Homo sapiens: one gene and its partner. The protein of the gene in region 2 purifies or fractionates together with the protein of the main gene of each other region. This does not show direct contact. Each region holds a gene or a part of one and is shown on either strand. Other genes may lie near its edges.

What was found.
Region 1: the proteins of SEMA4F (region 2) and USO1 purify together in Homo sapiens (affinity purification with mass spectrometry; 2 studies listed by BioGRID and IntAct, with this or other methods). This does not show direct contact.

What each region holds. Positions count from the first base shown.
Region 1 is NC_000004.12:75,804,477-75,808,299, reverse strand, and holds part of USO1 (general vesicular transport factor p115), read right to left. Parts: intron 3,161-3,823; coding exon 2,997-3,160; intron 1,815-2,996; coding exon 1,728-1,814; intron 1-1,727. UniProt on the Homo sapiens protein: General vesicular transport factor required for intercisternal transport in the Golgi stack; it is required for transcytotic fusion and/or subsequent binding of the vesicles to the target membrane.
Region 2 is NC_000002.12:74,660,696-74,664,518, reverse strand, and holds part of SEMA4F (semaphorin-4F isoform 1 precursor), read right to left. Parts: intron 1,788-3,823; coding exon 1,694-1,787; intron 1-1,693. UniProt on the Homo sapiens protein: Probable cell surface receptor that regulates oligodendroglial precursor cell migration. Might also regulate differentiation of oligodendroglial precursor cells. Has growth cone collapse activity against retinal ganglion-cell axons.

The DNA of each region.
Region 1 (3,823 bases), on a different chromosome or scaffold from region 2:
CTAGGGACCACCAAACACAGATGAAAGCAGTAGTACTATAATGAAAACCAGGGTATTAATTGAAAGTTTTTATTAATGTTGAATTTCCAAACTTCTCACCTTCTCCTCCCCCAAAAAAAGTACAGGAAAAGAAAGGCAATTATAACAATGGCTCTCAGCAGGAGTGATTTCTCCCCATATCCCCCCATCCCCGAGGACATTTGGTAATGTCTGGAGACACTGAGTAAGTGGTGGGACAATGGCAAGTAAAAGGCTCTTTTCTTTTGGTTCTCTTTAAAATTTCTATCATGTACATTTGTGGCTTTTCTAATTTATTTTGTTTAGTTATTAAAATGAGTTACAGTTTTCTATATATAGTACTTTACTATATATTATAAAAAACAAAACTGTCACTTAAAAAATACATATATTTTAACAATCTAAAGTTTATAAAAGTAAATAAACTGGAGAAAGTAAAAAAACTAAAAGGCAATTCTCTTTTTATAAAAATATCTAATTAAAGTTTCACTGGGAAAGATAATTAAATGGCTTATTTTTACTTAGAATTTACAAACTAAGGCTATATATTAGTAACTTAATTCCCTTTAATTTTAATACAGTTCTAGTATAGGTACACTTAATAAAACCAAAAGAGCATATTAATCTTCCCACACAAATAAAACATTGTGAACAAATATTGGAGACCTGAAAATCCTCAAATGATAAGTGATTCTTTTTTTAAAAAGAGGTCAGATATTTAGAATCTACTCTGAGGTACATGGACATTATCAAAATAAGACAAAATTTCTCTATGTTCAGTCATTTCTCTTTCAAAGCAGCCATGTCAGTGGACTAGGGCCAGTTGCTTAGTGGAGAGAGAAGGAAGACAGTTAGTCCTAGGTTAGTGAGGATGGTCATTTTTTAGTATTGCTTGGATTAAAAAAAAAAAAGTATGCATTTCTTTTATAATAAGAAAGAAAGGAGGGAAAGAAGAAAAGAGAGAGAAGAAAAGAGAGGAGGAAAGAAAAACAACCCCAGAACCTGTTTAGGGATAATATACTCTAGAGTTTTCTTCCAATTGCTACATTATTTAATTGTAAGTATACAGAGTTCATTTCTCTCTTTTGATTCTTTTCTTGAACAATACATTTAAATTTTTTCATTGGATAAAGGTAAATCTGTATGATCTAGTTTAACAGGAATTTATAAATACTATAAGCAAGTAGAAAAAAGTTTAACTTGCTTTTCTAGATGTTATAAATTACCACAGAAAAAGTTTATTTTGCTTTTTAGCTGGAGTCATTTAATTGAGATATAGGTAAGTTTACCTTTCTTCTCTTTTCCAATTCTAAAATTCTATATTTTCTAGACAAAACAGTTTAAAAACCCCATACATTTAGTCAAGCAATTATCATAGTATATTAAAATTAGGCATAAGATTTTACATTTTCATATTTGCAAGTTATAAATTTAAATTTTTCCTTGTTAGTTCACTGATAATCTATAAATAACATGGGTGAGATGCTGAGATTTTTTAAAAGGAATACCTCTGAAAAATAAAAACACAATAAAAAGCAAAGTACTATTACCATATAAATAGAAACAGCTTCTGGATTTTCAAATGGCTGTCTTAACTTAAATTTTACTTACATCTGCTAATATAGTTCTAGATTTGTGAAACTATAGGGCTGTTATTCTATTATAATTAAAACATGACAAAGTAGAATTGGATCAAAGTGGAAAATTACCTGTTTTAATTCTGCAACTTGTTCAGAATCTCTAGCTGAAACTATTGCTGAAGACTGTTCATTTGTGCCAGATGTTTGGGAAGATTTCTGCAAATAGCACAAAAATAAACTATAAAATATATTCAGTCTAAAGAGATGAGAAAAAAAAACAGAACTGTACACATATAAACTATATCATATGTGCTTACCAAAAAATTCACACCAACCTTTTAATTTTTATGCCCAAGATAAAATTCCAACACAGCACATATTGTCTACAACTTTTTCATGGCTAAAAATCCATTTGTAGGCTGGGTGCGGTGGCTCATGCCTGTAATCCTTGGGAGGCCAAGGCCAGTGGATTGCTTGAGCTCAGGAATGCAAGATCAGCTTGGGCAACACGGTGAAACCCTATCTCTACTAAAATACAAAAAATTAGCCGGACGTGGCAGCGTGCACCTATAATCCCAGCTACTCGGGAGGCTGAGGCAGGAGAACTGCTAGAACCTGGGAGGTGGAGGTTGCAGTGAGCCGAGATTGTGCCACTGCGCTCCAGACTGGGCTAACAGAGCGAGACTCTGTCTCTAAAGAAAAAAAAATAAAATTTTTATTTTACCGAGCAATTTATTAAATCTAAGCATTTACCTGCGTTCATATGGAGAAAGAGCATAAAAGCAAACATTTATTAAATAATTTCCATCTATTAGAAGAGTAAATTAAATCTCACAACAATGAACTAGACATTACCACTACCATTTTATAGATCAGGAAACAAGTTTAAAGAGGTTAACTAAATTGCTTAAATTCAATGAGCCAGGAAGCATTGAAGTTTAAACAGTTTGACTCTAAAGCTCATCCTGTAAAATCTTTTTTTTTTTTTTTTTAGATGGAAAGTCTCCCTCTGTCGCACAGGCAATGAGGTGAAGTGGGGTGATCTCGGCTCACTGCAACCTCTACCTCCTGGGTTTAAGAGATTCTCCTGCCTCAGCCTCCTGCGTAGCTGGGACTACAGGTGCCTGCCACCATGCCCGGCTAATTTTTGTATTTTTAGTAGAGACAGGGTTTCGCCATATTGGCCAGGCTAGTCTTGAACTCCTGACCTCAGGTGATCCGCCCACCTCAGCCTCCCAAAGTGCTAGGATTACAGGCGTAAGCCACTGTGCCTGGCCCATCCTGTAAAATCTTAACATATGATATTCTGGCTTAAGAGATCCAAGGAAAAAAAAAAAAGGCAGGATAATGAGAACCACTCTTGAACTCTTATTTTAACTTCTTAAACATTTACTTTACCATATTTTCAATCATAGAGTCCTTTTCAGTCAGCTGGCTTTGTAAAAGTTCCTGATTACGTTTTAATTCTTCTATCTCTTCTCGCAATCTACCAATTTCTTCTGGCTGAATGCCATTCATCTGAGCCCCCTCACTGTAAGAACCTTGATGCTGATTGTCTTTTCCTGTTAGACAGACATAACATTTTAAAAGCCAACGGGAAACTTCAGTTTTTCATTTTTGAAGTAGAAGATTCAAATATGTAATTTTCTTCATTCAATTACTTTGGCAGCACTTTTGCAATCACATTTCATCTTTGCAGAATGGTATACTGATAAAAATAGTGAACTGATAGTATTTTCCAGATTTCTGGGAGAAAAAACAGCACAGCCTTGACTAAACTGCATGGTCTGGTGATCTATGATTAAGAATTACAGTAATTTTAATTCCAATTCTGTCAACTGAATATGAGAAAATAAAATCCTTTTAAAAAATCTTCACAAGCACCGTAGGATAATACTATTTAAAAGCAGTGGAGCTCTTGCCATTTTCCAGGCACAACTTAAATTTTTCATTTATTATATCATTTAGTTCTCAAATGTTATTACTATCTTCATTTTGCAGAAGAGGAAACTGAAAGATTACAGCGGTCATTCTTAATCAGCTATACATTAGAATCACCTGGTGGGCTTATACTAGTTACTGATCCCTGGACCTAATCCCAGATTTATTAAATCAGAAACACTATTGTGGTATCAGCATTGGTATTTTTTTTTAAAAAAGCATCTCAGGAGATTCTAATATGCAGCCAGGGTTGAGAATCAATGGGCCAGATAAACAGGTAGCAA
Region 2 (3,823 bases):
GTTCACACCCTTTGATACAGTAATCCATTTCTAGGAATCTTAAGAGGACAACCTAAAATGTGAGCAAAAATTTATGCACAAAGATGTTCATTACAGTCATATGGATACTAGCAAAATCTTTGAACTAACTAAATTTATATAAATAATTTGGAATTGTTTAATTCATGGTAGGTTAGCAGAATGAGTAACATGTCATTAAACATTATCTTTACAATGAATTTTTAAATTATATAGAAATGCCTGTGATATAAAATTACATGACAAAATTCAAAATTACATCCATGTAGCATGACATTTAAAAGTTTTATACTGTGCACATGCTCATAAAATTTCCATTAACCTGCTTTACACTACCACAAGAAAATGGCTTTTCACTGAATTTGGAAGGTGCATGTTGGGTGGTCTGACCTAAAATTCAGGCTATGTGGCACAAAAAAAATTTGCTGTGTGGCTGCTAATAAATTAGACAGTCATTCTCCAGAAGAGGTTTAGGTTTGTGATAGAATCATTTCACACTTGAGGAATCACAGGCAGCTTGTTCAAAAGAAGTACTAGCAGGAATTTATTTAATAGTCATTACTGACTCCCCTGAGCAACAAAGGACTGGCAGCAAATGTATGTGCATGAATGTACATGGGTGTGCACACACATTAATATCCATTTAGGATATGATATGGCTTGGATGTTTTGTCCCCTCTAAAACTCACATTGATATGTGACCTCCAATGTTGGAGGTGGACCTAGTGTGAGGTGTTTGGGTCATGCAGGCAGATGTTTCATGAATGGCTTGGTGCTGTCCTGGCAGTAATGAGTGAGCTCTCACTCTGAGTTCACAAAAGATCTGTTTAAAAAAGCACCTCCTCCCTCTCTCTCTTGCCCCCTCTCTCACTATGTGACACACTGGCTCCCCTTCACCCTCTGCCATGACTGTACGCTTCCTAAGGACCTCACCAGAGGGAGATACTAGCACTATGCTTCATGTCCAGCATCCAGAACCATGAGCCAAATAAACTTCTTTTCTTTATAAATTACCCTGTCTCAGGTATTTCTTTATAGCAACACAAATGGACGAATACAGGGTATTAGGAAATATCCTAAAATATTAGCAATAATTTTCTAAGTAGAGATATTTTAGAATTACACTAATACGGTACCACTAGACACACAGGCCTATTTACGTAAAATTAAATACTATTTAAAATTCCTTCCTTCAGTCACACTAGTCACATTTCAAGGGCTCTATAGCCACAATAGCTAGTGGCTACTGTATTGGACAGTGCAGATGTAGAACATTTCCATCATTACATAAAGTTCTTTTGGAAAGTGCTGTTCTAGAAGTTTTCTTCATGTTCTTCTTTATACTTTTTCCAAATTTATTACAATATGCATTGTAGTATATTCCACTTATTAACAGGAATAAAAACACTATGAGAAAAGAAAATGAGGTTAAGAGAGGAAACATTACACTAGAGGTGCAGAGGACACATTCTGTGGAGAGAATCCTGGGGATATCATACTAGGTGGGGAAAAGCAGGTGGTTACACAGGCACTCAGGGAAGAACAGGAAAGGCTAAAAAGAGACATGAGAATAATAGACATTCCAAGGTAAGAAAGAACACAGAAATTCTAACAGCAAGGGTGGGGAAGGAGGCAATTAGCAAGAAGTTACAGGTTCTTGTCTCTCCCCACTCACCAGCCATTACAGCTGCTGACCGCTGAGCTGGCTCAAAAGGACATTTCCCCCGGCCACTCTCAAGTCTTTCAACCTGCTGGAACCTGGACACATCCTATAGACCAGAAGGGGGCAATTGGTTTAGGGGTCATAGGGAAGGTTCATGGTGAGAATTACAAAGATGGTCAGATGAAGGAAAAGGTCAATTCCCATTCCTCTCCCCTTCCACTCCCTACCCCCAACTATCATCCCCATATTACCAGTCAGCTATTCCTGATGCCCCCATCTACTCCTGCATTTCTCATCTCTGCTATCCTTTGTTCATCAGTTTATTCCTCTTCCCTCAATTCCCCCAGCAGCCAACACCCACATGCCCTGATGAAGAAATTCCTAGGACAGCCCAAGAAGCACCTAAGAGGCTGAAGGTAGGTCTTTCCTCTGAAACACTGCTGAACTGTAGGGTTTGTAACTGGCTGGAGAATATGCTACATGACAAGAAGGATCAGGAAGAAAGCAGGCCTCCTGAGGACTGGAAACCTTAGAAAGGACAAAGAAAAGTGCAGGCTGATAAAGGACCATCTGAAACCCAGAGGCCTAGAGAGACAAGGGCCATCCTCCTCCTATTCCCCACCCCAAGGATGAAAGACAGAGCTGCATCATACGACCAAGGGCAGAGGACAGGGGAACCAGCAAAGTCAGTAAAGAATGACCTGAAGCTCAGGTCAGAATGTGAGAGTTTGGTAGTAAGTACCTTCCTCACCCAGGGACTCCAGAGGGACTGACATGGGCAAGGAACAAGAGGTGTAAGAGCTTCATCAGGGCCAGCCAGAAGTTACCTTAGTCTAGCATTTGGCACTAAGAGAGGCTTCAAGATAACATCTAAAAACAAGGATGATTTCAACCTAGGACTGAGAGGGAAGTTAACAGTGGCTGGTTGAGAGTCAAAGTTATGGCACGGAAATGCCAGGGATGATATCTTTAGTTCACAAACTGGCGTGGGCATATGGTGTCATTGGAGCCTAATTACTTCCATGGTAGCTGTTGCAGAAATATCGATATATATCCCCTGAAAAATAAGTGTACTACTGGCCCACTCCGATTACTCATCTCTTGTTCTAGATGGCAAACAAGATTCTATTTTACTGAGAGTCTGGAAGAAGGCCTGTTAAAACTTTTGAAGTCCCCAAAAACGGAATGCTGGGTCAGAAGAGTCTGCTGGAATGGAGGACTCCACAGAGGCACAGCACTCCAGCTGTGTGACAGTGGGAGCATCCTCACCTGAGAAGAAAGATGGGTTTGGTGAGAGATTAACAAGATGGTTGGGCACTCTAGAGATGTGGTACTTACCTGCTGCTGCTTCCCTTCTTACCTCTCACCTAAACCATGGCAGTAAACTCCTTTCTCCACATCATCTAGCCACCCCCACCAACCAAGTTATTCTAATACCCACCCAAGATTAATCTGAAGTATTGGTCACTGACTTAATAATAACTTTTTGTGCAAGAGAATGAGAAAATAGTCCACCATTGCCTGGAGTACAACCTCATCAGCCAAACCTACTTATTTTCAACTACTTTTCAAAATGACCTTTGTTCTATCCAAACCAGATCACCTGTTATTCCTGGAAGACAAATAATGTTTTCTATGCCTATAACTACTGCCTTACATTTCTCCAAGGACTAAAGGGATGAACTTTTTCTCAGTTCTCATTCTCTTTAACCCTTATGCACCATTTGATACTTTTGACTCACTCCCTTCCTTGAAATATTCTATTCCTTGACTCTCCTGAAACTCTGCCCTTCTGGAATCCCTCCTATCTGTTATTTCTCCATTTCCTTCTTCTTCTTTCTAGCTCCCACATGTGTATCCTAAGAATCCACCTTTAGTAGCTTTCACATATGCTTCAAAGATCTCATTCATTCTTTCCAGCCAGATATTCTATGCAAATCATTCCCCAAACTCTCCAAATCTGATATCTTCTAAACTCTAGCCCATATTTTTATTTGACTGCTGGACTTCCTCACAGAGATTTCCTATCTGCCCCTTAAAACTCAATATGTTGAAACTAGTTCTTTTTCAGTTTTCCCCAGCAGCATCATCATATCATCCAGGTTTCTAACCTTTGAAGAGGTGAGCCTCCTATTAACTAGA